2 linked regions of the Homo sapiens genome follow. The protein of the gene in region 1 interacts with the protein of each later gene in a biochemical or structural test. Each region holds a gene or a part of one and is shown in the gene's direction. Other genes may lie near its edges. The genes, in order: OTUD4 and PFKFB3.

The links.
Region 2: the proteins of OTUD4 (region 1) and PFKFB3 form a complex in vitro, tested with the Homo sapiens proteins (one study listed by BioGRID).

Annotation. Positions count from the first base shown.
Region 1 is NC_000004.12:145,168,403-145,178,636, reverse strand, and holds part of OTUD4 (OTU domain-containing protein 4), read left to right. Parts: intron 1-478; exon of another isoform or gene 479-509; intron 510-3,892; coding exon 3,893-3,976; coding exon of another isoform or gene 3,977-3,997; intron 3,998-6,916; coding exon 6,917-6,967; intron 6,968-10,234.
Region 2 is NC_000010.11:6,217,843-6,228,076, forward strand, and holds part of PFKFB3 (6-phosphofructo-2-kinase/fructose-2,6-bisphosphatase 3), read left to right. Parts: intron 1-706; exon of another isoform or gene 707-729; intron 730-1,676; exon of another isoform or gene 1,677-1,726; coding exon 1,727-1,851; intron 1,852-2,815; coding exon 2,816-3,023; intron 3,024-3,538; coding exon 3,539-3,685; intron 3,686-3,798; coding exon 3,799-3,903; intron 3,904-5,012; coding exon 5,013-5,142; intron 5,143-6,115; coding exon 6,116-6,178; intron 6,179-6,306; coding exon 6,307-6,371; intron 6,372-8,349; coding exon 8,350-8,523; intron 8,524-10,234. UniProt on the Homo sapiens protein: Catalyzes both the synthesis and degradation of fructose 2,6-bisphosphate.

The DNA of each region.
Region 1 (10,234 bases):
ACATTGTCATTGAAAAATTCTTCCAAAAGCTCCCCAAACCAGGCTCTGTCCGTTTCTCATTTTCAGTGTTGCTGTGGGGTATGTTCACAGCCACCCACTGCCTCCGGTCCTTATTGTTAGTAGGTAAATAGTCTGCCCCATTTGTGAATTTTCTGAATCTCTGTCTGTCCTGCTTCCTTGGACTCCTCAGCACCTCCAGAAGCCTAGGGAAGAGGTGGAAGTGAATTCAGCCCGTATTTATAACGTACTGTTAGACCTAGCAAGAGTTTGGTAAGCAAGGAGGTAGAAATAAATGGCGGTAAGGGAAGCTTGGCGCTTACTTGGATTTGAGTTATCTTGAGTCCTAGTTTATATTGAAGCAGAAGGGTGTGCCTGATTTCCGTAGTGCATACCATAGATACTCGGTGGCCTTGATTATACAGAAGCCTCTTTTATTATAGTGGGATCTCTGTTTTTAAGTAGAAAAGGGGCAAGAGCTAGTTTACACTAAGAACTCTTTGTTACATCAGGTAACACATTTTATTGTATTTTGTAATGGGGTTTAGGTTAGGCATAAGGGACTACCCTTCCCAGTTATGTGACTCAGTTTTAGTCTGATGAGCTTAGCTGAAGACCTTGAACTTTGGGGGAAGTTCAGTTATTCAGTAGGCTACAGTTATAGCCATCATCGCCAAAGGCAAAGTGTGTGTGTGTGGGAAAAAGGAAGTAATACCAGCGTCAGGCTTCCCTTTTAAAATGTGTACCAATAATTTATATTTTTTGCCAACAATTTCTCCTATAAAATCACAAATACTCATCATTTCTAAGAAGGAATCAAAGTAAATAATCTAAGTGGCAGTTTTTAAAGACGGGGAGGAGACTCGAGTTAGGATTTTGGTCTTTCTCTCCAAATTATCTGATTTAGATAGGCCATTTCCTTTTTACACTTACGGATTTGGGCCTGCCGGAGGCCTGACCTGAATCAGCTCCACAGCCATGGAGCTAAAAATAGGGCAGTCTTGGAGGACTTGCTAAAACAGTGTCTCAGCCTTTCCCAGTATTTATCACTATCTTGTCCCAAGTAAAAATGGGAAAGCCTTCTAGTTTGCTTTCATGTATATATTAATTTGCAGAGATATTTGTCATACTACTTTAATTCTTTCGAAGTGTTATCAACCTTGCACAATAATTTACATTTTAGACAGTTGTCATTTAACCTTGCTTTTCTTGCAGTGCTTGACTTTGTGAATTACCAGCACTCTCACACTTTATAGAAGTTGCTAAGAGTTTTGCTTCTGAGCAACAGGTTCAGATAGATTGTATGTGCCAAAATCTTTGTTAAAAGAGAAGAACCAGTAGATATGCCTACCATTGCTTTTGATTGAAAATAAGCTTTACTAACTTATGTTTGCCACCTGTTGCTAGGTAAATGGCTTTAAGACTAGCTCCACGTTGCTAATGGCAGAGGAAAGCCCTATCAGATGACACTGTGGTTTATTCATACGAGTAATACCTTGATTCATGATAGTGTCTAACATAGCTTCTGTGAAAGAAGTGTTGCTAAATGTCATTTGTTGAATTGGCAAAAAAATTCTACGGTGGTTATTTTTATATATAGATAGTCCTTTTTGGTCACATACTCTTAGAATATATAAGAATATAGTTTAATAGTGTCCAAGAACAGCAGTGAAGGTAGAATCAGTTAAACTGAAAACCAGTTATTACACTGAAAACAAACTAATTGCTAACCTCAACAGGTGCATTTTCAGTGTATCTCAGCGTAATAGGACATACTAGGCGTCCAGGCAGTTGTGCCGGTTCTGTGGGTATAAATGAGCCTTGGTTGTGATCCAAGAGAGCTGTAGAATGCACAGCTGGAGCCTCCCTTTTCCCAAATGCTCTACTCATGCTAAACGTAAAGGGAGAACCACTCAATTGGATCTGTAACTTTTTTTTTTTGAGACAGAGTCTTACTCTGTCACTCAGGCTGGAGTGCCCTGGCACGATCTCGGCTCACTGCAACCTCTGCCTCCTGGTTTCAAGCCATTCTCCTGCCTCAGCCTCCCAGGTAGCTGGGACTACAGGCACGCACCACCACACCTGGCTAATTTTTTTTTTTTTTTTGTATTTTTTAGTAGAGATGGGGTTTTCACCATGTTGACCAGGCTAGTCTCAAACTCCTGACCTCAGGGGACCCACCCTCCTCGGCCTCCCAAAGTGCTGGGATTACAGGCGTGAGCCACAGTGCCCGGCCAGGATCTGTAACTTTTAAAGATACTTTCTATTAATATAAATTCTCAAGAGGCCTTGATGGTAGTTTGAAATGTGTTACTTTAAGTGTGTCTGAGTTTTTTTTTTTTAAACCATAACCCTTTACGGTACAGGAATATCTTTATTTGAGATACCCAGTAATAGAAAAGAATTTTAATCTCCTTTAAGCATGTTAAATAATTGGGAGCTAGGGCCGGGCGTGGTGGCTCATGTCTGTAATCCCAGCACTTTGAGAGGCCCAGGCGGGCAGATCACCTGAGGTCAGGAGTTTGAGACCACCCTGCCCAACATGGTGAAACCCTGTCTCTACTAAAAATAGAAAAATGAGCCGGAAAAAAAAAAAAGAAAGAAAGAAAAATTAGCCGGACATGGCAGCTCCTGTAATCCGGCTACTCGGGAGGCTGAGGCAGGAGAATCGCTTGAACTTGTGAGGCGGAGGTTGCGGTGAGCTGAGATTGCACCACTGCACTCCAGCCTGGTGGGGGAAAAAAGAATTGGGAGCTAGCTAGAAGGAAGCATTGGATAAGAAATAGTTGTTTCAGGCTGGGCACAGTGGCTCATGCCTGTTGTAATCCCAGCACATTGGGAGGTCGAGGTGGGCGGATCACGAGGTCAGGAGTTTGAGACCAGCCTGGCCAAGATGGTGAAACCCTGTCTCTACTAAAAATACAAAAATTAGCCAAGCGCCGTGGTAGTTGGCTGTAATCCCAGCTACTCAGGAGGCTGAGGCAGGAAGATCGCTTGAACCTGGGAGGTGAAGGTTGCAGAGAGCCAAGCTTGCGCCACTGCACTCTAGCCTGGGTGACAGAGCAGGACTCCGTCTCAAAAAAAAAAAAAGAAATAGTTGTTTCAATTCACAGCTTTAGAATTTTGGTAAAAGACCACATGCCAGTAAGTTATCTTTTTGTTGAACTGGTTGTTTAATAGAAGAAAATGTAAACTGCAGAGTGAGAGGATCTGGATCATACTTTGTAGGTTGGTACTTTACAATTTAGGGCATAAAAACAAACCCCAAACCTCTTGGGATGATACCACACAACATTTTTGCACCCCCTATGCTGCCTACTTGGATGTTCTTTCTTGTCTTATAAGCTTGATCACCAAGGAAAGAATGAGTGCCTTAATTTTTCTGAAACCATAGTGGACTTAAATTTTTACACAGAGCCTCTAAGTGGATTCAGAATTAATGGGAAAAATAAATCGGCCTCTTACAGGCTGAAAGCCTCAAAATACATTCCTACAGAAGTTGCCAGTTTGTCTTTTTCAATATGTATAGGATGAAGTTGAGCGTGGCGTAGCATGGATTTTGTTAGCTCTTCTTTGTGAAGAGTAAAGTTATTGTGGAGGGAAGGCCAAGGGAAGAGAGTGTCCTAAATTTACAAAAATGTCCTAAAGGAGAAAGGCTAATAAATTCTTTACAAATTTGGCTTAAGAAGTAGTATTGTTTGTATATGTCATGTCTTCGCTGTGCTTAGTTAGAAGAAGAGGTAGGAATGAGTAAAGATATCGAAATTATAGAAAGGGAAATGGAGAAAGACTGATAATCTATTGGTTGTCAGATTATTTTGGGTGTAAAAGAAGACATTAGGTTGTAACTTTTAACTAAATGCTTAATAGTGTGTTTGTTGCCTTTTCTTTTTAGGTATTGCACTCTCAGTCTCGCCATGTTGAAGTCAGAATGGCCTGTATTCACTATCTTCGAGAGAACAGAGAGAAATTTGAAGCGGTAACTTGTAATTTCAAACATGTAATGGTGTCTTGACTTGGTTTTACATTTTGGCTTTTAGAAGTGTTCTAGTAGAATTTCACAGGCTGGATCTTAATGCGGGTTATGAAAATAACACTTATTAAAAAAACTTCTCTATTGAACTTAATCTAGTTATATTCAGTTATGTTGTTTTCTAGGCTATTTTATGTTTTGCATTTATTTGGACATTTAGAAAGCTACTATGATGGATAAGACGCTGAGCTGTGGGGGATGGAAAGATGACCTGGACAAGGCCCTTGCATACTAAGAGTGGGCTTTGTCTGACATGGTCAGGGAATTGGGGGTGTTGTGATTAATAGTGGTTTCTGTGATGGGTAACTCCCTATAAATTAAAAGAAAAAAAATTCAGTCTGGGCATGGTGGCTCACACCTGTAATCCCAGTACTTTGGGAGGTGAAGAGTTCAAGACCAGCTTGGCCAACATGGCAAAACTCTGTGTCTACTAAAAGTAGTGGCATGGTGGCACATGCCTGAGTCCCAGCTACTCTTGAGTCTGAGGCACGAGGATTGCTCGAACCCAGGAGGCAGAGGTTGCAGTGAGCCGAGTTGCGCCGCTGCACCACAGCCTGGGTGACAGAGTGAGACTCTGTCTCAAAAAAAAAAAAAAAAAAATTCAGACTTGCAGTGTAAAAAATACGCTGAGTGTAAGTAATGCTGAACCCTTAATTTTATCAGAAGGCATTCATAGGTTTTTAATTTTCAGGGTTCAGTGTGAACTCACATGTCAGAACATTATAATTATGTAAGTAGTGATTAATAGTTAATAAAATGTTGTATAACAGCTTAATATAATTTTCTCAGTAGTATGTGAAATAAGATGCCACAGTGACCTGTTTTCATTTTACATTCAAAGTCTTACAGGATTTATTACTTACTGGTTTTAAGACCTAGAATTATGTAATCTGACAACTTTGGGTGTTATTTCCCCCAGTTGACTGGTAGAGAATGTTGATATAATACTTTGCAAATGATAGGCTTGAAACCTTGTTTTATTAAAAAAACCTGGTAACGCAGAGGCTAGATAAGAGAGTGCAGAGGTGTGGTAGAGAAGGGAAGTGGGGAGGTGGAATGGTCTTTAAATTAATTCTTATTAATCATTGGCCCCAGAGGGTAAAACTGTGTTGATAATAATGGACATTGCTAACATTGGTTGAGGTGCTTACTATATGCCAGGCATTAAGTGTTTTGCATATATTTTTTTTAGTCCATATAATTTTTTTTTTTTGAGACAGAGTCTCGCTCTGTCGCCCAGGCTGGAGTGCAGTGGCGCCATCTTGGCTCACTGCAAGCTCCGCCTCCCGGGTTCATGCCATTCTCCTGCCTCAGCCTCCAGTGTAGCTGGGTCTACAGGTGCCTGGCACCATCACGCCAGGCTAATTTTTTGTATTTTTAGTAGAGATGGGGTTTCACCATGTTAGCTAGGATGGTCTCGATCTCCTGACCTCATGCTCTGCCTGCCCCGGCCTCCCAAAGTGCTGGGATTACAGGCGTGAGCCACCGTGCCTGGCCTTAGTCCATATAATTTTATGAGGTATGATCAGAGGTTGAAAGTTCCATGGGGAAAAGTTTCACTTTCCTTTTATGAACCTTCAAGCAGTTTCAGTTGTCCAGAATTGGAAAGAGATGTTGTAGAAAGTATTATGCCTTGTTACTGACATTGTTCAGCCATGGCATAGGTGGACGCTTTCTGCTCAGAAAGGAGACTCTCAGAGAGGATGCAGGCTTGTGTCAGAATTCTGCAGTCTCTAGTAACTTTAAATGGTTCTGTGTTTTTTTTTTCCTTAGACCTATAATCATCTAATACAGAACAGTAGCCCTTTATTGGTGGGCTCTTTAATATATATGGCTCTTTTATTATAAATATCTTTCGAAATTTAAGATATTTTTGGCAATTTGACATTATATAATCTATGAAAGAATCTCAATCTTAAAATCCAAGGGTGCTTAAAAGATTTTATAGACAAGGGAGTATACTTTAATGTCTTTAAGTATATCTCTGCTAAATCAACTGGGACTGTAATTTAAACGCAATTGAATTTGGTGGTTCAACAAATGACTTTTAGAGATTTCTCAAATGAGTGCGATTGCTATTAAAGAAACATAAAAAAGGTTGTGTTATTACACAGCTTGAATAAACTGTTTTTATGTCAAAGTAACAATGAAGCGATGAAGCAAGCTGTATTAGAAAAATTTTGTTGATGCTTCAAAATATTTTTCGCCTTACTAGTTCTCATCGCTCTTTCTAGTATCACTTGAGAGACAATGAGTACTCTTATCTGTATTATTAAGCTATACTATTTCTTAGCTTGTAAGTCAGTCTTTGTTTTATTCCCTTCTACACACTGGTCACTACCAAGTTAAAGCACTGCTTTCATCATATAATTTCTCAGTTCAGAATGTCACCTGAAGTGGCCTTGAATGGCCTTTCTCATCTAGCCTTCAAGTCCTGCCTGGGCTCAAGGCCCTCTGTAAACAGGCCCCCCTTTGGGTTCTTCTCCCACTCAGTTCCACAACAGGTTGTCCTGCTCCAGCTGGCCAGATTGCTTGTCTTCCCAACACAGTGTTCCTCTTCCTCCTCACGCCACATTGGCCCTCTCTGTAGAGTATCAGCTGCCTGTTGCCATCCAGATCCTGTCCAGCATTCATCTTGAGTCACTCTTCTTTCAGGAAACCTTTCCTGACAGAATTTCCTTCTTTAAATTCTTTTGTATGTTTATAGTCTTTAATGATTGCTATATGTTTTCATAATTAGATTATGTACATATTTTTAAATAATACTGAGGTATTTTAGGTTTATGTACAAACTCAGTAATTCACAGTGAATGTTTACACAGCGAAGCGGTTAACTGTTTTGGCATATATGTTAGATGACATTTCTAATAGATTTATTTTTTGCAGTTTATAGAAGGATCATTTGAAGAATATTTAAAGCGTTTGGAAAATCCACAGGTATGTCACAGTCTTCTAGTATATTTCTATTTTTATATATCCAAATAATGTATTTAAAATTCATTAAAATAGAAGATTACTATTACAGTGTATAGAGGAGTTGCAGTGACGGTGTATCCTATTTCCTTATAAACGTTTCCTACACATTTTATGCAGCACTTAAGTTGGAGCTATATGTTAGAGGTTGCCTCACTAAGGCAGAGTTGTGATATTTTATCTTGGCTATAATGGCATGTAAATGTAGTATAAAAATCTGAAATAATACTGGGGTGATGATTTTCAGAATGCTACGTTGGTGTGTGTATGGAACTTGGACAGGGTGAAGTTTGATTTCTTTTTTTTTTTTTTTGAGGTGGAATTTAACTCCATTGCCAGGCTGGAGTGCATGGCATGATCTCGGCTCACTGCAGCCTCCGCCTCCCGAGTTCAAGCGATTTGTCTCCCGAGTATCTGGGACTACAGGCGTGCACCACCATGTCCAGCTAATTTTTTTATTTTTAGTAGAGATGGGGTTTCACCATATTGGCCAGGATGGTCTCGATCTCTCGACCTCGTGATCCGCCTGCCTCAGCCTCCCAAAGTGCTGGGATTACAGGTGTGAGCCACCACACCTGGCCTGCAGAGTTTTTCTTCCTAGGCAACTGAGAAGGCAGAGTTCTTTCATGCAGGTTCCTATTTCCATGATCATCTCGTGAAGAGGGAAGAGACTGTTGAGACAGAAAAGGATAGCACTTACTCACCAACTCCTGCTGCTATACTTTTTCAGTCATGTTTATGTTAAAAGGATTTTTCTTAATTTTTCTGTTTACAAAACTAACGTTCTCACTGTAAAAATCCAAGTATCTTGGAATGCCATTTAGAATGTTAAGGTAAAAATAACATTGGCAAAGAAAAAAGCTAAGAAGAGTTAAGGAGTAAAGGGAATGTAATGTAGGAACCAAGGGTGTTTGATCGATGACTGATGTATCCATTTGGTTGCCTAACACTAATTTGAGTGCTTGTTATGGGCCAAGAATTCCTAGTCACCCTGGGGATGCAGAGATAATGTAGATAACAAAAAAGTTTCCCTATCATAGGAAAGAAGGTCAATACAAGCTAGAAAAGGAGATTTGTCACAAGAGGTATATAGCTGTGATGCTGTAGGCATTCAAAGTGTTATTTCTAGCTGGGTAGACAAAGCAACACTTGGAGAGTGAGTTGTATTTGAAGTCTGAATGGATTCTAAATAGGAAATGCCTGGGCTGAAGGGCATTCCAGGCAGTGAAAACTGTGAGCAAAGCAGATTCAGAAAACAGTTCCAATTGTGTGGAGCATTGAGTATGTGAAGATAAGAAGTGGTGAGAAAGGAGTTGGAAGGCAGGTTGGGGCCAGACTGTGGGAGAGCCTTCAGTGTTAGGGTCAGTGGTTTGGAGCTTATGCTTTAGACCCGTGTTTCTCAAAGTGTGATCTGTAGGTTATCTGTATCAAAATCACTTGATGTGCATGTGAAAATGCAGATTCCCTGGCCCCTATTCCATACCTGAATCAGGGCCTCTGGGCCTGGGGCCTAGGCATCAGGCATTGGGAAACCATATAAGGTTTTTGGGGCAGGAAGTCAGAGTAGTGGTTATCCTATCTAAAATTGTAATTCTCAGCTTCCATCACTTTCCCTGTACCCCTCTCTGCTTTATTTTTCTCTGTAGTGCTTATATCATTTAATGTACTGTGTACTTTGTCATCTTCCTACTTGAATTAAGCTCCATGAACACAGAGTTCTGTATGCTTTATTCACTGCTGTGTTCCAGTTCTGAGGGATTTTGTTGACTGAAGGGTTGGATGGCATCTTCTGACAGTTGTTTCTTTTTTGTTACTAGCAACAAATATTTATAAATCTTCATTCTTATTTTTTTGCTTTCCTGGGCTGGGCACAATGGCTCGTGCCTGTAATCCCGGTACTATAGGAGGCAGAGGCGGGAGGATCACTTGAGGTCAGGAGTTCAAGATGGTGAAACCCTGTCTCTACCAAAAATACAAAAAAATTAGCCAGGCGTGGTGGTGTGCACCTGTAGTCCCAGCTATTCAGGAGGCCAAGGCAGGAGAATCGCTTGAACCTGGGATGCAGAGGTTGCAGTGAGCTGAGATTGTGCCGCTGCACTCCAGCCTGGGCAACAGGGTGAGACTCCATCTCAAAAAATAAATAAATATATTTTTTTGCCTTCCTAATATATGGCTGTATAAAATGGAAACAGAAACCATTTGGCAGATATTTGATGGATAAACTCAGTTGCTTCATCCAGTTCTCAGAGAAAGCATCTTTATCCTCTTAATGAGTAATAGTGGAGCATTTTGAAGGTACTTCAAACTTGTGCGAGAATATGTTTTTGTCAGCTTTGAGGTAAAATTGACATACAGTGAAATTCATCACTTATAAATATACAATTTGATGAGATTTGACAAGTGTATATGCTCATGTAACCACCACAGCAAACATCATAAAGGACATTTCCATCTCTCCAGAAAGTTTCCTTTTGCCTTTTTGCAGTTAATCCTCTTCCGCCTATCCCCTGGGACCTGGCAAGCACTGATTTGCTTTCTAAGTTTTGCTGTTTCTAGATGCATATAAGTGGAATGATAGAGTTTGTAGTCTTATGTATTTGGCTTCTTTCACTTAGCCTATTGGAAATACTAAAATTCATTCATGCGTTTAGCAGTAGTTCCTTTTTATTGAAGAAAAATAATCTGTGTATGTATCTATCACAACCTGTGTATACATTTACCAGCTGATTGATATTTAAGTTCTTTACAGTTCTGGGTTGTTAAAATTGAAGCTGCTGTGAACAATTGCTTATAAATCTTTGTGTAGACATGTGTTTTCTTTTTTCTTGGATTAATACCTTAGAGCAAAATTGCTTGGTCATCTGGTAAACATATTTTTAAGAAACTGCCAAACTTTTTGAAGTGACTGTACCATTTTGCTTTCTCATCAGCAATATTATGAGAATTTCAGTTTCTCCACATATTTGCCAGCACTCTTTGTGATTTAACTTGAATTTCTCTAATGATGTTGAGCATCTTTTCATGTGCTTATTTGTCATCTATCTAATTTTGTTGGTGAAATGTCTGTTCATAGGTTTTTGCCCATTTTTTAATTGCTGTTGTTCTTACTGAATTTTACTAGTTCTTTATACTGGATATAAGTCCTGTATTGGATATGTGTTCTACAAATACATTCTTCTAGTTTGTATTTTGGCTTTCCATTTTCTTTTTTTTTTTTTTTAATTTTTTATT
Region 2 (10,234 bases), on another chromosome or scaffold:
TAATTTCCTCTTCAGCTTAAACATATCAGAATATGACAATTCTATAAAGAAAAGCAGTTCTGAAAACTTAACACTGGGACGCTGTGGTGCTGGCATCTTTGCACCTTTAGAGGGGATGCTAAGCATGTGTTAGCCCCGGTATCTTCCCCAAGGTGGTGGAAGTATTTCTAGATATCTTTAGGAAATGAATTCCTGTTTCAGGAAGGGCTATTTGAATTGTGAAAAGTCAGTTTAGATTTGTCCAGTGGGAGCAGGAGGCTCAGAGTATGAGGGTTTGCCACCTTTCTTTGGCTGGGCACTCGTTGTTCCCCTTGGTAGACAGCAGGGTGCAGCTGTGAAGTCATTTTTCCCAGTGAGTGGTCACCAATGTGCTTAGCAAGGAGTTTAGCATTTGTCTGGTTGTCCACTAGCAGATAATCATTTGCCCCAACCCACCATGTTCAGAAATCTCTTTCTGATGAAATCTCAAAGCAGCTTGGTAGAGCCAGGCATTTGTGAACTTAGATTTTTTTTTTAAATTGTGGTAAAATATACATAATGTAAAATTTACCATCTTAATCATTTTTATTATTTATTTATTTATTTATTTATTTATTTATTTATTGAAACGGACTCTCCTTCTGTTGCCCAGGCTGGAATGCAGTGACACGGTCTTGGCTCACTGCAACCTCTGCCTCCCGGGTTCAAGCGATTCTCCTGCCTCAGCCTCCCGAATAGCTGGGATTACAGGTGTGCGCCACCACGCCCAGCTAATTTTTTTTGTATTTTTAGAGGAGACGGGGGTTTCACTGTGTTGGCCAGGCTGGTCTCAAACTCCTGACCTCAAGTGATCTGCTTGCCTTGGCCTCCCAAAGTGCTGGGATTACAGGCGTGAGCCACTGCATCCGGCCATTTTAGCTATTTTTTAAGTGTGCAGTACAGCAGCAAATTATATTCCCATTGTTGGGCAACCGCCACACTCTATCCGCAGGACTTTCTCATCTTCCCCGGCTGAAACTGTGCCAGGACACAGGCACAGCTCCCGACTGACTCGATCTTTGAAGAGTGGCTGCCTCTCAGTGACGGCAGTGGTTGATGAGAAAAAGAGCCCAGGCATTCAGAAATGCTGAGTTTCCCTAAAATCCACCTGGTTTCTGGGGCCTGTGCCACTGTGGGTGTTGGTAGACCTGTGTTGTTGCCTAGGAGAGCGAGCCCTGCAAAGGAGCCGGCACAGCCCTAGTTGGAGAAGCAGTTAACCACGGACTGGTCACACTGGGGCTGCCTCAGGCAGTGGGGGGTGGAGGAGAAACCACACAAGGCCAGAGGCATCTCTGGGAACTCCTGAGCATACCTTAGAACCAGCAGCCTCCTCCCGGCACGGGGAGCATTGCGGATCCTCACGTGGAGCTCGGTTGAGTTCAGCGCCAGGCTGTCTGGCGGTGACTCGGGCACGGGACAGATCCTGACTTGCTGGAGCATTCAGAGGTGTTCATTATGGAATCCCTGTGGGTTTCCTGTCTCTGTCCTTCCGGCTTCAGTTCTCCATCTCCCCAGGGAATCCTCCCCATGTAACATCAGGCTGTGACTCAGCCCCCAGCATCTTTCTCCCTTTCTCTTACACGCTGGGCCGGATAATCTTTATACTGAGCCTTCTGTGCGCTCCCCTTTTGAAAGCCCCAAATCCTGCTTAATCTCAGCAGAAAGCCTTCCAGCGTGATTTATCAGCCACCCCTTTGTGGTGTTGCAGGAAGTTAAAATCTCCAGCCCGGATTACAAAGACTGCAACTCGGCAGAAGCCATGGACGACTTCATGAAGAGGATCAGTTGCTATGAAGCCAGCTACCAGCCCCTCGACCCCGACAAATGCGACAGGTGATTCCCGTGGCTGGCCGTCTCTGCAAGACCCACATGAGGGTTCTTACTGAATTCTTGATGTTCCCACAAAGGATTTGCTCCTGGATACCTTTAAAAAAATTTTTTTAAGACAGTTTTTTTTGTAGAGATGAGGTCTCGCTATGTTGCCCGGGCTGGTCTTGAGCTCCTGGCCTCAGGTGATCCACATACAGCCGCTGGATACCTTTATCAACTCTCTTTGAAAATATCTTTTAAAAACAATCCTTGATGACAAATCATATTCAGTGGGAATATTTTGAACACTGTGTAGAAGTACAGGAAGTCAACATAGAGTTGAGCCTGATTTTGCTACTGTCCCTCCGATAGTTCCTTTCTTTTTTCTTTCCTTTCTTTCCATTTATTTATTTATTTATTTACTTACTTACTTGCTTGCCTGCTTGCTTAGAGACAGGGTCTCCCTTTGTCTCCCAGGCTAGAGTGCAGTGGCATGATCATAGCTCACTGCAGGTTCAAACTTCTGGGCTCAAGTAATCCTACCGCCTCAGCCTCATGAGTAACTGGGACTACAGGTGTGGGTGTCCACGCCCAGCTAATTTTTTTTTTCTTTAGTAGAGATGAGGTCTTGCTATGTTGCCCAGGCTGGTCTTGAACTTCTAGACTCAAGCAATCCTCTTGCCTCGGCCTCCCAAAGTGCTGGGATTACAGGCATGAGCCACTGCACAGGCCCCTTTCTTTTTTTCTCCATTTTCTTTCTTTTTTCTCCCCCTTTTCTGGGAGGCAGGCCAGCCTCACAGCCAGACACCAGCTGTGGGAGTTGTCTTACGCATATGCTCTGCCCCTTAGAAGGATTCAGTCTGTGCCCTGGAGGGGCCTACGGTCCCGCCTTGCTGTTCTCTGGGGATCACATCTTCGGAGACGGGCCAGGTGCATCCTGCTGTGGGTGGTGGCCTGAGCTGTGGTTCTCGGTGGGGTCTCTCTGCAGGGACTTGTCGCTGATCAAGGTGATTGACGTGGGCCGGAGGTTCCTGGTGAACCGGGTGCAGGACCACATCCAGAGCCGCATCGTGTACTACCTGATGAACATCCACGTGCAGCCGCGTACCATCTACCTGTGCCGGCACGGCGAGAACGAGCACAACCTCCAGGGCCGCATCGGGGGCGACTCAGGCCTGTCCAGCCGGGGCAAGAAGGTGCGGGGTGTGCTGCCGCATGGGCCGTTCTGGCTGTAGGGCGGTTGCAGGGTCTATAGGGTGGGTGGGGAGCTGTGTGCTGCTGCTGCTGCTGCTGCTGCTGCTTGGTGTGCTTGCTGTGTGTGTTATCTGTGTGTGCGCCTGCACGTCTCTATGCATATCTGTGTGCATCTCTGTATGGCTCTGTGTGTGTGTGTGTCTACGCCTATCCATGTGGCTTTGTGTGTGTGTGTCTTTGTGTTACTTTGTATGTGTTTGTATGTGTGTCTCTGGTGTGTGTATCTCTGTGCATGTGTGTGATGTGTGCGCGGTTGTGCACTAGGAAGGGAAGGGGCAGGAAGAGCTGAGCCTGGTCTCTGGGTAGGGTGTGTGCGGCTGTGGCTGTCCCAGTGGCCTGGGGCCCCCACGGTGTAACCAGGTAGTGCACAGCCCTACGTGGGCTGCCTGCTCCAGCCCTGGCTCTTGGAGGAGCTGCGGGCATCTGGAATCAGTGGTCCCCCTCCACCACCTCTCAGTTTGCCAGTGCTCTGAGCAAGTTCGTGGAGGAGCAGAACCTGAAGGACCTGCGCGTGTGGACCAGCCAGCTGAAGAGCACCATCCAGACGGCCGAGGCGCTGCGGCTGCCCTACGAGCAGTGGAAGGCGCTCAATGAGATCGACGCGGTGAGTCCTGGGAGGCGGGCAGGCAGCCTCACCCTCGGGCATGGGGCGGCTTCCCAAGAGGCCCTAGACACCCCTGTGGTTTGTTCCCCTGAGTGACCACTGGGTCCCCGCAGGGCGTCTGTGAGGAGCTGACCTACGAGGAGATCAGGGACACCTACCCTGAGGAGTATGCGCTGCGGGAGCAGGACAAGTACTATTACCGCTACCCCACCGGGGAGGTGAGCGCAGGCTGGGGCGGGCTGACGGTCCCCAGCACACATGACCACTGCTGTGCAGGGCTGGGCCACCCCTCCAGGGAGTTCACTTCCGTGTGGGTTCTGGGGGCTCCTACACCCTCCACCTTGGAACTGAGTCCCCCCAAACTGAACCTTCTAACAGCCTGGGGTGAAGTGCATTTTCCCATAAGCAGAAGTGAGATGTGTTTCCCTAGGGACATAGAACTATATGGGAGAGGAGGAAGGTGGTGTGTGAAGGTCCACTGGGCAGGGTGGTGGGCAGGCTGGCAGGAGGGGTGGCTCTATATCCCCTGGGCAGCGTCTGTGCTTCCCCGTGCACGGTGCCCGGGTGGCTGTGGCTGAGGACGCTGTTGCCTCCTCTGCCGATGGGATCCTCCTGGGCCTGGTGTGTCCTCCCTGCCCGTGCCCTGCTGAGCAGTGTCGTGCCTCAGGCCCCTGCAGGCCCACTGTCCTCTGGCCTCAGACTAAGCCTTACACACCGGGGCCCTGGTTAGCACAGCAGAGAGCCCACAGGAGCAGGAGCTTTTCTGGTCTTTTTCTAAAGTCACAGCCCTCCTGCTTCTTTTTACATTTTTAAATTGATAGAAAATACACATAACCTAAAATTGACCACTTTCATCACGTTAAAGTTATGATTTAGTGCATGTTAGTGTACTCACAGTGCTGTGCAGCCATCACCACAAATTCCAGGCCTTTCCCTCACTGCACAAAGAAACCCAGACCTGTTAGGAGCCGCTCCCGCCTGCCCGGCCCAGCCCCGGCACCGGCCCGTCTGCTTCCTGCATCTGGATCTGCCTATTCTGGGCATTCCATGTCAGTGGAGTCAGATGCCACACGTGCCTTTTGCGCCCAGTTCTTTCACACAGCATTGAGTTTTCCAGGTTCCCCCGTGTGGGAGCGGAGTGGGGAGGGCTTCACTCTTTTTGTGGCTGAGCAATAGTCCACGTTAAACCCTGCTCCTTCTCAACCACTGCTGATGATGGATGATTGATTTTGCGTGGCTCTCTGGCCGGTCTGATGCAGTCTGTGGCCAGCGGCAGAGCCCCTCCCGAGTGCCCTGAGCTCACGTGGGCCCGGCCCTCTGTGCTCAGTCCTACCAGGACCTGGTCCAGCGCTTGGAGCCAGTGATCATGGAGCTGGAGCGGCAGGAGAATGTGCTGGTCATCTGCCACCAGGCCGTCCTGCGCTGCCTGCTTGCCTACTTCCTGGATAAGAGTGCAGGTACCTCGGGCAGGTCGTGGCCCCGGGATGGAGGGAGGAGGGGACTGGCACTCGGCGGGGGGTCAGCCGCAGACCTGCCGTGGCCTGCCCTGTGTTGGCTGCTGTGCCATGGGGTGTTAGGAGAAGGGCACAGGTGTCGGCTCCCGGCTGCTTCAGGTCCTCTCTGTCCAGCGCTTCCTTGAAGCCCTTGGGAAATGCTGTGGAGCCCAGGTTGATGCCGGGGACTTCATTGCTTCATAAACAGCTCCCTGAGACCCGCCCCTGGCTCCACACATCCCAGGGTCTTGGCTTGGGGTGGGGGCTGCACTTCTCTTCAGTGCCCTCTAAGGAACAAACAGCCCGGAAAACTCTGACAATCCCATTGAAATGTTAAGTCTTAGCATGTCCAGTCCAGTGCAGCTGAATCCCTAGACAGACCTAAATTGTTTGGGAGTGACTTTTTCCCAACTCTAAGTCACCGTGAGGGCGAGTCTTTTGGTTTGGTTTGATGGCACTCTTTGGGCTAAAGTCTTCTTCTGGGGCCAGCTGCTGCCCGGGACAGCTTGTGGCTGGGGACAGATGCCCCTGCCCGACAGGGCTTCCGAGGGTCCTTGTTGGGGGGACCGTAAAGGTCTTTCCATGCCTCCCCCACCCTCATGTCTCATTTCTTTTTTTTGAGACAAAGTTTTGCTCTTCTTGCGCAGGCTGCAGTGCAATGCATGCACTCACTGCAACCTCCACCTCCCAGGTTCAAGCGATTCTCCTGCCTCAGCCTCCTGAGTAGCTGGGATTATACGCATGTGCTACCACACCCTGGCTAATTTTGTATTTTTAGTAGAGATGGGGTTTTGCCATGTTGGTCAGGCTGGTCTTGAACTCCTGACCTCAGGTGATCCACCTGCCTCGGCCTCCCAAAGTGCTGGGATTACAGGCGTGAGCCACCACGCCTGGCCGTGTCTCATTTCTAACTGTGGGTGTACAATTTCAATTTCAGAGGAGATGCCCTACCTGAAATGCCCTCTTCACACCGTCCTGAAACTGACGCCTGTCGCTTATGGTGAGTAGCAACCCCTGCCAAGCCCTGTCCCCCTGAAGGTGGCCACAGTAGCTTCTTGTGGCCGTGGGCTGTAAGCGGTGCTGTCCCTTTAACAGCAGCTTCCTCTGCCCCCATCCCACGCCCTCCAGGCTGCCGTGTGGAATCCATCTACCTGAACGTGGAGTCCGTCTGCACACACCGGGAGAGGTCAGAGGTGAGTGGAGGCCCCAAGCCTCATCCTGGCCATCATCACACGATAGCCCTAGTGGGTGATGGGCGCTCAGGAGGCCCCGGGGCCGCTTGCCTGCAGGTGCTGGCCTGTCTGGGGCCATGGGCCTGCTGGCTGCCTTCCTCAGCACCTCTTTGTTCCTGCCTGTCTGTTCTGTGGCTTCTGGGGCCTTCTCATTTTCTTTCTTCCTGTGTCCTCTTCCTCCCATTTCTGCTGAGCTCGAGATATGAATATTAGTGAGGAAGATACATTCTCTCTTTTTTTTTATTTGAGACAGGGTCTCAGTCTGTTCCCCAGGCTGGAGTGCGGTGGCGCAGTCACGGCTCACTGCAGCCTCAACCTCCTGGGTTCAAGTGATCCTCCCGCCTCAGCCTCCCGCGTAGCTGAGACTACAGGTGCGCACCACCATGCCCAGCTAATTTTAATTTATTCATTTTTTTAGATAATGGGGTCTCACTGTGTTGCCCAGGCTGGTCTTGAACTCCTGGGCTCAAGTGATCCTCCTGCCTTAGTCTCCCAAAGTGCTAGGATAAAGGTGTGAGCCGTTGTGCCCAGCGTCTCTTCTCTTTAACATCAGCATGGCACAGTTCTTGTTGCCTTTCCTTTCTGGCAGCTAAAACCAGTGCTTTCAGTTTCCAGAGTTACTGTTTCAAACAGGATCAGCAGGTCAGCGCCGCCATGTGCTTGTGATTAGGCTCAGAACCACCAAGAACACGGTGTTGAGAGACGGGAGGCGTGGAGAGCAGAGGCCTGGGGGGTGGCGGGTGGGGAGGCGCTTCAGGAGACCTCGAGGCCTGGCCGTGCAGCTGCTGTCTACCTTGGGGGGAGGCCTGACATTTGGAGGTGGGCCAGGCTGCCTCTGACTGAGTAGAGTGGGCCTCTGCTCAGGTGGACGCGTGTTGTGAAAGTGAGTTTGAATTCACCGTGTACAGGCTGCCAAAAGTACAACACTGTGCTAGTACTAGTCAGACCTTTCTCTTAGACCGAGCGTGACTTTCTGTCATGGCGTTCCCGAAACAGGTGACTGTCTAGTCCCAGGAAGCTTGGCCTTCGGATTTTGGCATGAAGGGATGAGGTGTCCGCCCCAGTCGCTGGCAGTTGCCTGGCTGGTGGGCTGACCTGAGAGAGGCTGGGGTCCCTTGGCCGCCTTGGTCCCTGTCACCCCCTCCACTTCGGAATGTGGGTCACCGGATGCTGTCCTGCCTTTAGCCATATGACAACAGCCCTGGTCAGGGAGCCACTGCCCCCGCTATGGGATTGGGCCTGAGCCGGTCCTGGAGCTCTTCCCTGCAGGGAATGGGGGCAGGGCCATGATGGAGACAGATCCCGGTTCTGAGGCTGGAGGCCCACACCCCATCACGCTGTCCCTCTCATGGGAGGGCTGTGTCTGGTCCTGGCCGCAGAACCTGCTTCCTGCTGCACATTTTCTGCGCCTTTGGTCTCCAGGCTTGTTTTGCAGCCTCCGTGCCCCATCCTAAGCCAGGGTGCCCTTTGTGTAGTAGAGATGGCTCTTCAGATCCTGCCTCGGGTCAGCGGAAGGGAGTCAGCACAGTTGCCTTCCCCTCCCCAGCCTGTGAGCCTCAGGCCCAGCCTCTCCCTCCTAGATGCCCCTCCTCAGCTCTCAAGAGAGGCTGGAAGCAAAGCTCTTTTCTCCGACCTCACGCTCTGCTGTGATCATCATTCTTTCCCTCCTTGCTTTGCAAGCACCGTGTTTGTCTGTGTGGGGAATCCTTTGGTACCATCCGAGGAAGGGGGCATGGGAGGGAATTGCCCCCATTCTTGCTGCCTGGCAGTCACCGCACACTCAGCAGCCCATGGTCCCTGGCCCGTGGTCCCGGCCACTCCCCTCGGTCAGTCTTTTTGCCTCTCTAAAATCCAGGAGCAGAGAAACTTTTTTGGGGCTAATTTTCCTCCCCTTCTTTGTAACTGTCGCCTTTCTCTCTTTTGTCTTTGTCTTGCTTAGGATGCAAAGAAGGGACCTAACCCGCTCATGAGACGCAATAGTGTCACCCCGCTAGCCAGCCCCGAACCCACCAAAAAGCCTCGCATCAACAGCTTTGAGGAGCATGTGGCCTCCACCTCGGCCGCCCTGCCCAGCTGCCTGCCCCCGGAGGTGCCCACGCAGCTGCCTGGACAAGTCAGTGCACTCCCCTTTCCTTCCTGCCTGGGGGACGCATGCCGGGCGTGATGCCACAGATCTGGGATTGCGTGCGTGTGTGTTTGCAAGAATACGTGCGTGGGTGCGTGTGGGTGCGCGTGCGTATGTTGTAGGTGTCTGTGCACGTGTGTTGTGGGGGCATGTGCACACACTCACGTGTTGAGGGAGAACATAGGAAGCACCCTCCGAAGTTAAGATCCTGGGGGCTTTCCTTGCTGGTGACAACCGTGACTGCGTTCGCCTCCTTTCTGAGGATGGGGTCTTTACAGGGCAGAAGCAGGCAGTGCAGAAGGAAGAGTGAGATGTCCAAGACCCGTTCACGTTCGTGAATGGTTATTTCTAAAACAAAGAAAGTGGCTACTTTCTCACATAAATAACATGGTTATCCCAGCAGGTAGTAAAAAACCTAACAAACAAGGCCAGGCGCGGTGGCTCACGCCTGTAATCCCAGCGCTTTGGGAGGCCGAGGTGGGCGGATCACCTGAGGACAAGAGTTCCAGACCAGCCTGGCCAACATGGCGAAACCCTGTCTTTACTAAAAATACAGAAATTAGCCAGGTGTGGAGGCGGGCGCCTGTAATCCCAGCTTCTCAGGAGGCTGAGGCAGGAGAATTGCTTGAACCCAGGAGGCGGAGGTTGCAGTGAGCCGAGATGGTGCCACTGCACTCCAGCCTGGGTGACAGAGGGAGACTCCGTCTCAAAAAAAAAAAGCAAAAAACCCCAACCCGATTTCACTTATTTCATTAATTTTGAAGGTTACAGGCCTGGAAGATTTTGGTTGTCAGACATTAAGATTTGTTTTCAGAAAACTGTTTGTTTTCAGAAAACTGGTCTTTTCCTTTACAGCCTGGAACCCTTGCAAATATGTGAGATGTAGGAATTTCTGTGCTTAAATTCAGGTACCACCCAAGGGTCTGCCCTACCTCCACCCTCCAGGCCTGCCCCCACAAATCAGCCCAGTGCAGCTTCCGGTCAGGTTTGTTGATGAGCCGGATGCTGGTGCTGGCTCTGAGCATCCTTTTCAGCCTGCCACCTCTTCCCGCCTTTTCCGAGACTTCCTTAGACCTCATGATGTCTGGAATGTGACCTGGGAGATGCTGCAGCCTCCACAGGTCACTTAACCTCTCCAGGCCTCAGTTTTTTCATCCAGGCAATGGGGGAATAATGGCAGTGCAGAAGTCAGATCAGATGAGGGGATTCATGCCCTGCATCAGGCCCAGTGTCGGGCATGTGGTGGGGACGCGTAGACACGGTGAGGTGGCTGTGATTAGCGGAAGCCTGGAGGCCTGGCTTTGGTGGTAGCTCCACACTAACATGAGTGCAGCAATTTAATTGCCCAGGTTCCTTCCCCTCCCAGGCCCTCAGTCTCCTTAGCTTTGCACATGATAGGAGCAGGACTGGGAGAGCTCTCATACATATTCCCTTGCAGGTCTCAGATCTGAGGGTTTTTATGAAAAGCCAGCAGAACTGAAATGGTGTCCCTGTGGCATCCGTTCTGATGGAAATGTGCAGTTGTATTTGGAAGTTCAGAGGCCGCTGCTTTGATGCTTGGGGGGACCAGGCTGGGGAAGGGGGTTGATATCCTGAGCTGCACAGACCTCCGTCGTGGAGGACGCAGTGGCAGGGGCTGCATCCTCCTGTCCGCTTCAGAGCTGCCCCTGGCGTTGGGAGGACAGTCCTTCAGGGTGGC